Homo sapiens: one gene and its partner. The protein of the gene in region 1 purifies or fractionates together with the protein of each later gene. This does not show direct contact. Each region holds a gene or a part of one and is shown on either strand. Other genes may lie near its edges. The genes, in order: RASGEF1B and COL1A1.

Region 1 (4,016 bases):
CAATTAGATCAACCATTGAGTTAACAGCAAGGTGTTTTTCATCTGTTTTGTTTACTGCTATAGTGGGGACAGGTAACTTCTCCAATTTATTCTTTGTTGACATCTTTAGTTACCAACAGACTCCCAAAAGTAATGAAAAGTCGATTAAAAAGAAAATTGTAATTATGCCATGGGTTTTCCCAAGATCCTTAAAGTCAGCTCATTTAAATTTACAAGAGAAAAATAACAGGCATCATGGAAAACTAAGTAACAAAAAGCTATTGAAAAATACATCTGTGGAACACAGTGGTCAGTTGTAAACAGCTCAGAAGAGCAAAAAAAAAAAAAAAAAAAAAAAAAAAAAGTCCTTCTAGCATGTTAAGCAGTCCAATGACAAACTCTGCTTTTTATTTTCTTTCTAGTGGCTATTTTCCTACCACAGTGTTGAGCTTCATTATTATATTAAATAACTTATATGGGTAAAAAGGAGTTTGCTAACCAGCAGCCAACTCAAAACCTTGTAGGAGGAGGGAGGAGAAAAATTTACAACACAGCACATACTAAGGGGAAACAAAGTCTGCAGTCAGCTTCCAACCAGTCTTACCCCTCTCTGGCAATACTGATTGAGCTAAGGTTTGGGATCTAAACGGGGGGGTTTTAGATCCCCTCCCTCCACTCCTTTCTTCATTTAAGTTAACAAAAGAAACGTGGGCTTCCTCAGAGCCAGCACTCAGCTGGGCAAGTCCCATTAGCAGCAAATGTTCAACCAAATTAAAAAAAACACACACACACAAAAGAAAACTCCATCCAGGTGCAGAGCTGTGATTCACATGGAAATTCCAGGAGATGAATAATGTGCAGAGCCGGGATTTTTAGAGGATTCTTTCTCAAGTGTCTTCAGTGAACATTTCAGTCTCACAAAATCTGAGTCTATCTGTCAGCTGCAGGAAATAAGTTCTCCATCTGGTCTTGAGTGAGCTTGTGTGCTTTGCTGACCCGGGTGCTCCAATGACTGCAGGGTCTTCATGAGTGTTCGTGGTACGAGATGCCAGAAAACAAAGGCCAGCCCCTCCATGATCTGCAGGAAGCAGCAGCAGCAGCAGGCAGGCAGCTCCCATGTGTTAAACTCTGCCTAAGAGGCTCGACCTGAGTAATAAAAACAACACAACCTAAGACAGAATGTAACAGACTACTTGAACTAGGATGAAAATGCCTTGTGTAATACTAATTTTATCTTTCCTGTGTTTTAAGTTTGATTTTACAAAGTTAAACCAGGAAAAAAAAAATCAAGCTTTTAAGTCCTATTGGCTCTCTGGGAAAACTGCCAGTCACTTAAAAAACAAACATTTATTAATGGAGATGGCAAAAGCTTAAACAGATAAATCTATATCTTGCGTAGGTTTATATTATAACAAAAACAAAAAAAGCAAAGATCATTAATGATAAAGAGCTTTTAGGTACAGGTTATCACAGATAGATTTACTTGGTAGATATAAGCATCTTCACAACACATTCCATGAACACTGGGAGAGTTTAAACAATAGTTGACAATAAGGGTGTCTGCCGTCAGAGGTGTATCTGCCACTGATGAATCTACGTGTCTGCAATGAATGGCTCTAGGGCCACCAAGAAAAGCATCTATGTAAAAATATCTTACTGCCTTCAAAGCTAATGTATAAAAGTTTTCAGGTAGGTACAATGATTCCAGAATATAGTCAGCCCTCTCTATCTGTGGGTTTTGCACCTGTGGATTCAATCAACTGCAGATCAAAAATATTTGAAACAAAAAATATGGGTCTGTACTGAATATATACAGACTCTTTTTCTTGCCATTGTTCCCTAAGTAATATGGTATAACAACTATGTATATAGCATTTACATTATATTAGATATTGAAATTAATCTAGAGATGATTTATGGTACAACAACTATTTACATAGCATTTACATTATATTAGGTATTATAAGTAATCTAGAGATGACTTAAAGTATAAGAGAGGATGCATATGGCTATATTCAAGTATTATCTATTTATTATTTTGAGTTTACCCTAACAGGTTATGTGTTATTGAATCAGTAAGACTGATGGCCACAAGAAAAGAATATTTCTGAAAACAACAGCAACAGAAAGTTTCATTTTATTATACCAGGGACTAGAGCATCCTCAGATTTTGGTATCTGCAGGAGGTCCTGGAACCAATCCCCCATAAATACCAAGGGATGATTATGCTTAATCTTAGTATCCACTTAACGTATGTATTTTGTAAATTATAATAGCCTGTTTTATTTTGTTTTAACTTCTTCGTGGTTGCTATGCCTTGGCCAACACCTGCGATAACCCAGTACCATTCAATGACACTACAGGAGCATGGGCTGACGAGTAATAGAGAGCAAGACACTGTGTCCAGAGCTGGGGCAGACATTAGGGGAAGACCCTGTGCTTGCCCTCAAGGGGCTTACATAGCAATAGAGAAAACCACAAACACTACACAAAACCACATGGCTGGTAACGAGAGAGGAAGAGTGCCTCCTGAGTGTATGAGTTCTGGAGAAATTCTTTCTAGGGAAAAACGGGCCAGGGACGGGGGAGGCATTGGAGCTGGGCCATGAGAACAGACAGGATATGGAAAAGGCAGAGTGTGTGGCTTGAACACCAACACAGATGAGAGCTGTTCTTCAAAGCTCCTTAAAAAACAATTTTAACGTGGAAACTGTCTTTTATACCAAAGAATATAATTTTCATTTCAACCAATTGATACGGGAGTGCTGGGAGGGGAAGAGCACGGTCCCTTTAAATGATACGGAATGGGGAAGGGAAGTGCTGGGTAGAGAAAGGCAGGTCCCTGGCTAGGGCTCAACCCCCACGGACCTAGGTGAGGACAGACATTTCCTGCCCAAATGTTGCATTTCCCAAGACCACCCTGGCCCACCACGCCCCCATCTTGGGCCTATAAAAACCCGAGACCGCCGGCAGACAGACACACAAGTAGCTGGACGTGGTGAGGAACACATCTGCTGAAGAAGACGCAAGTGGCGAGTCGTCGAGAGGACATTGAGGGGAGCACACTGGTAGAAGGGCACGCCGGCAGGGCACACCGAAAGATGCCAGCACGCAGGACAGACTGGCGGGATGAGGCGGAGTTTGGCAGGGGCAGTCTGAGGAGCGGCTGGTCGTCGAGAGGACACTGAGGGGAGCACGCTGGCAGATGGGCACACCGACATACGCCAGCACACTGGCAGGCCACTTACTGGCGGGACGAGGCGAAGTTTGGCAGGCGCAGTCGGAGGAGAGCCTGGGCCACTGAGTGGCCCCACTCCAGTGTAAAAACATCTCCCTTTGGGCTCCCCCATAGGCGGAGAGCTACTTCCACTCAATAAAACTTTGCACTCTCACGCCTGTAATCCCAGCACTTTGAGAGGCTGAGGCGGGCGGATCACGAGGTCAGGAGATCGAGACTATCCTGGCTAACATGGTGAAACCCCGTCTGTACTAAAGATACAAAAAATTAGCCGGGCGTGGTGGCGGGCGCCTGTAGTCCCAGCTGCTTGGGAGGCTGAAGCAGGAGAATGGCGTGAACCCGGGAGGCGGAGCCTGCAGTGAGCCGAGATCCTCCCACTGCACTCCAGCCTGGGCGACAGAGAGAGACTTCGTCTCAAACAAACAAACAAACAAAAAGCTTTGCACTCATTTTCCAAGCCTATGTGCGACCCGATTCTTCCAGTACACCGAGGCAAGAATGCTGAGATACAGAAAGCCCTCTGTCCTTGCCATAAGGTAGAGGGTCTAATTGAGCCGGTTAACGCAAGCCACCTATAGATGGCAAAATAAGGGAGCGCCTTGTAATACAGGCCCACTGGGGCTTCAAGAGCTATAAACATTCACCCCTAGACACTGCCGTGGGGTCGGAGCCCCACAGCCTGCCCACTGGTATGCTCCTCTAGAGGTTTGAGCAGCAGGGCACTGAAGAAGGGAGCCACACCACACCCCCATCGCATGCCCTGGGAGGGGCACAAGGGAACTTTTCCCATTTCACAATC
Region 2 (3,500 bases), on another chromosome or scaffold:
GTCGGGGGCGCTCAGTTGGCCTGCGTCTTCCTGCTCCCCAGATGAGAGCCGCACTGGAGCCAGTGCATGGGGTGGGCAGAAGGGAGAGTTTGGTACTCACGCTGTTACCCTTGGGACCAGGAGGGCCGCCGGGGCCCTGGGGTCCAGAGGGGCCTCGGGCACCAGGGAAGCCAGGAGCACCAGCAATACCAGGAGCACCCTGTGGGAGGCAGACAGCCAGGGCGTGAGCCTAGGAGCAGAGGGAAAGGGGCAGGCAGGCTGCAGGCGGCAGGAGTGGGACTGAAGCCTGGCAGGATACTTACATTGGCACCTTTAGCACCAGGCTGTCCATCAGCACCAGGGTTTCCCTGTGGCACAGAGAAAGGAGTGTCAGCAACAGGCAAGGACTCTGAGGTTAGAAAGTGGCAAAGGGGACACTGAGTCGGGGACACTTACAGCAGGGCCAGCAGCACCAGCAGGGCCAGGGGGGCCAGGCTCACCACGCACACCCTGGGGACCTTCAGAGCCTCGGGGCCCTTGGGGACCAGCTTCACCCTGAATCAGAAGAAAGGACATATCAGAAGCCACCCTGGGAAACCCAACCTTGCCTCTCGGGATGGCAGGAGGAAGGGGAGACAGGGACAGGAGAGCAATGATCAGGACTCTAAGATCAGAGACGGAGAACCCAGGACAAAGGTGTTAGTGAACGGGCTGCTCTCTTGCCACTCTGGGTCCCTTTGGTTTGGGGAACAGGGAGACATGAACCCCTTGGCCCATGAGGGTCATGCTTAGAGGAGAGTGGGGGGTCTCACCTTAGCACCAACAGCACCAGGGAAGCCAGGAGGACCAGCGGGGCCGGTGGGACCCTGTGAATGAAATGGAGATGTCAGCGAGAAGGAAGAGATGGCAGCTGCAAGTCACACCCTGGGACAGAGGAAGTCCTGGGGTTCAGACCAACATAACCTGCTCCCATTGTCAGCCCCAAGAGCAGATACTGAGACCCCTCCCCACTCCCAGGCCCTGAGGCCTACAGGCCACACTCACAGGGGGCCCGGCAGCACCAGTAGCACCATCATTTCCACGAGCACCCTGCAGGAGAGAGGGGAAGCCCCGTTAAGTCCACTGAGCACTGGCCAGTCCCTAGAGTTCCTGGGGAGCCCCTTCCAGAGCTCAGGGATCCCCCAAGGGGCCAGGAGTACTTACAGCAGGGCCAGGGGCTCCAGGGCGACCTCTCTCACCAGGCAGGCCACGGGGGCCCTGACAACCAAACCAAGAGAAGTCAGATGAGATGGGAGACAGCCTTGTTCCCCCAGGCCTCCATCTTGCCCCTGCCTCCTGCCCCATCCCTGCCCTCTGGAACTGGGCACACTCACCATCTGACCAGGAGCTCCATTTTCACCAGGGCTGCCAGGCTCACCCTGTAGATCAGAGAATAATGAGTGAGAAATTCATTCATGGTGGGACTCTGGGGATGTGGAGGACCATGATGTTCAGACAGCCTCTTACCTTAGGACCAGCAGGACCAGCATCTCCCTTGGCACCATCCAAACCACTGAAACCCTAAAGCAGGAAAGAGGTAGAAGGTAAGAACCTGTGGAGGGGGTGGAACAGCCTTGACATCCACCTAGATCTGAGAAAGAGCCTTGGGAGGTCATCACCGCCATCCCTTTGTTTCTGAGCTAGACTAAACCCCAACTGGCTCTAGATCTCACCCAATCGTTTAATCGGGACTGCTTTCCCATGGAGGGAGGTGCTTTTGGATGTCCACTCTCTGTCCCTTGGGACTTCTGTAGCTGCCACCCACCATGATGCAACTCAGTATCTTTTGGGGAAGAGGTTGGGACTGGATGGGGGTATGCTAGGGACTTGGGGAGCTTAAATGACTCAAAGGTGACTCACTCTGTGTCCCTTCATTCCAGGGAGGCCAGCTGTTCCGGGCAATCCTCGAGCACCCTGGAGAGAGATGAAGAAGACAAGGAAGGGCCATTAGAACACATCACTGTGGACCCAGCTCCTAAATGAAGCCCAAGTGCAGTGAAGCCCAGGTTCAGCCACAGCCCCCTGCTCACCTGAGGCCCAGGAGGCCCACGCTCACCAGGACGACCAGGTTTTCCAGCTTCCCCCTGAGAGGGAGAGAAAAGACCATCATGCCTCTGCCTCCCCACCACCGCCTAGGGGCTGGAAAAGTGGAGAAGGTCTCAGTCTTCTTTGGATTGTTGCAGGTCAGGTTTGGGGGCCCAGAATCTTATCTTTGAATCTAGAGCTCAGTTTAAATCTACAGTGAAACCTTCGTTTGGTGAAATCTGAGTGCCTCTAAAGGAATTTCTGTCTACTTCTGTCACCAGCATTTTAATTTCACCATCTGCGCACCAATTTCCCCAAAGGGATGGGGTTGGGGATTGCTCTAAGGTGGCTGGGGTGAGGAGAACAGTCACTTTGTTGGGGACATGGAATCATCTCACTAAGCGAAAAGATCATTGTTCCAGGGCAGTCCGTGCATCAGAGAGGACTTGCCCTCCTTCCTCTGAGTATCGTTCCCAAATGTGGTGGAGTGGAAATTGCAGGACCCAACCCATGGAGGCCATGGGGTCAGATGGTATCTTCTTGCTGGGGATACTTACATCATCTCCATTCTTTCCAGGGGGACCTGGGGGACCTCGGGGACCCATGGGACCCTAGAAAAGATAGAAGAGGTGGTTAGAATATGGATAAGAAAAAAAGAAGGGGAAGGCTGGGATTGAAGGGAAGAGGTAAGGAAGACCCCAGGCCTGGGAGTTCTTCTATAGGAGAGTCTGTGTGTTTGTAGAAGGAGTATGAATCTGTATAGAGAGTGCTTACTGAAGCTCCAGGCTCGCCAGGCTCACCAGGGGGACCTTGGAAGCCTTGGGGACCCTTGAGAAGAAGGAAAAAGATGGGTTAGAAGACAAGTCCCTGTCAACCTTCTCCAATCTTACCAAGAGATCTCTGAGCATCTCTCCTGCCCTCATCCCAGTCTTCCCTCCAAAAGACCAAAGCCCAAGGAGGCATATGAAGACGTCCTGGATACTCACAGGTGCACCAGGGGGGCCAGGGAGACCACGAGGACCAGAGGGACCCTATAGAGGGAGAAGAAAGGGGGGTCATGGTGATCCCTCTGTAGGAAAGCATGTGGATGTAGTCATTCATGCCTGTTGGGACCACCCAGTCGTCCTGCATCCTTTCTGGACTCTGAGGTCCCAAAGGTGATCTGGACCTCCCAAGCTGTCTATACCAGCCGCCTATGCCCACCTCCTCTGGATACCCATTCTCTCTTCTGTCATCCATGCTCCCCCTGCTGGCTCACCATGGGGCCAGGCACGGAAATTCCTCCGGTTGATTTCTCATCATAGCCATAAGACAGCTGGGGAGCAAAGTTCTAGAACAAACAAGAGAAGTCAGAGTGAGGACAGTGAATTGAAAGGCAGAAGACGGCACTGAGGATGGAAGAAACTGACATCATGCACTTCCTGGTGTGATGTGCTGAGAAGAATAACATTGCTTTT

Evidence for each region.
Region 2: the proteins of RASGEF1B (region 1) and COL1A1 purify together in Homo sapiens (affinity purification with mass spectrometry; 2 studies listed by BioGRID and IntAct, with this or other methods). This does not show direct contact.

What each region holds. Positions count from the first base shown.
Region 1 is NC_000004.12:81,426,668-81,430,683, forward strand, and holds part of RASGEF1B (ras-GEF domain-containing family member 1B), read right to left. Parts: intron 1,126-4,016; coding exon 1,101-1,125; 3' UTR 1-1,100. UniProt on the Homo sapiens protein: Guanine nucleotide exchange factor (GEF) with specificity for RAP2A, it doesn't seems to activate other Ras family proteins (in vitro).
Region 2 is NC_000017.11:50,195,132-50,198,631, forward strand, and holds part of COL1A1 (collagen alpha-1(I) chain preproprotein), read right to left. Parts: intron 3,374-3,500; coding exon 3,302-3,373; intron 3,075-3,301; coding exon 3,030-3,074; intron 2,872-3,029; coding exon 2,818-2,871; intron 2,655-2,817; coding exon 2,601-2,654; intron 2,103-2,600; coding exon 2,049-2,102; intron 1,933-2,048; coding exon 1,879-1,932; intron 1,540-1,878; coding exon 1,486-1,539; intron 1,398-1,485; coding exon 1,353-1,397; intron 1,237-1,352; coding exon 1,183-1,236; intron 1,069-1,182; coding exon 1,024-1,068; intron 846-1,023; coding exon 792-845; intron 535-791; coding exon 436-534; intron 348-435; coding exon 303-347; intron 200-302; coding exon 101-199; intron 1-100. UniProt on the Homo sapiens protein: Type I collagen is a member of group I collagen (fibrillar forming collagen).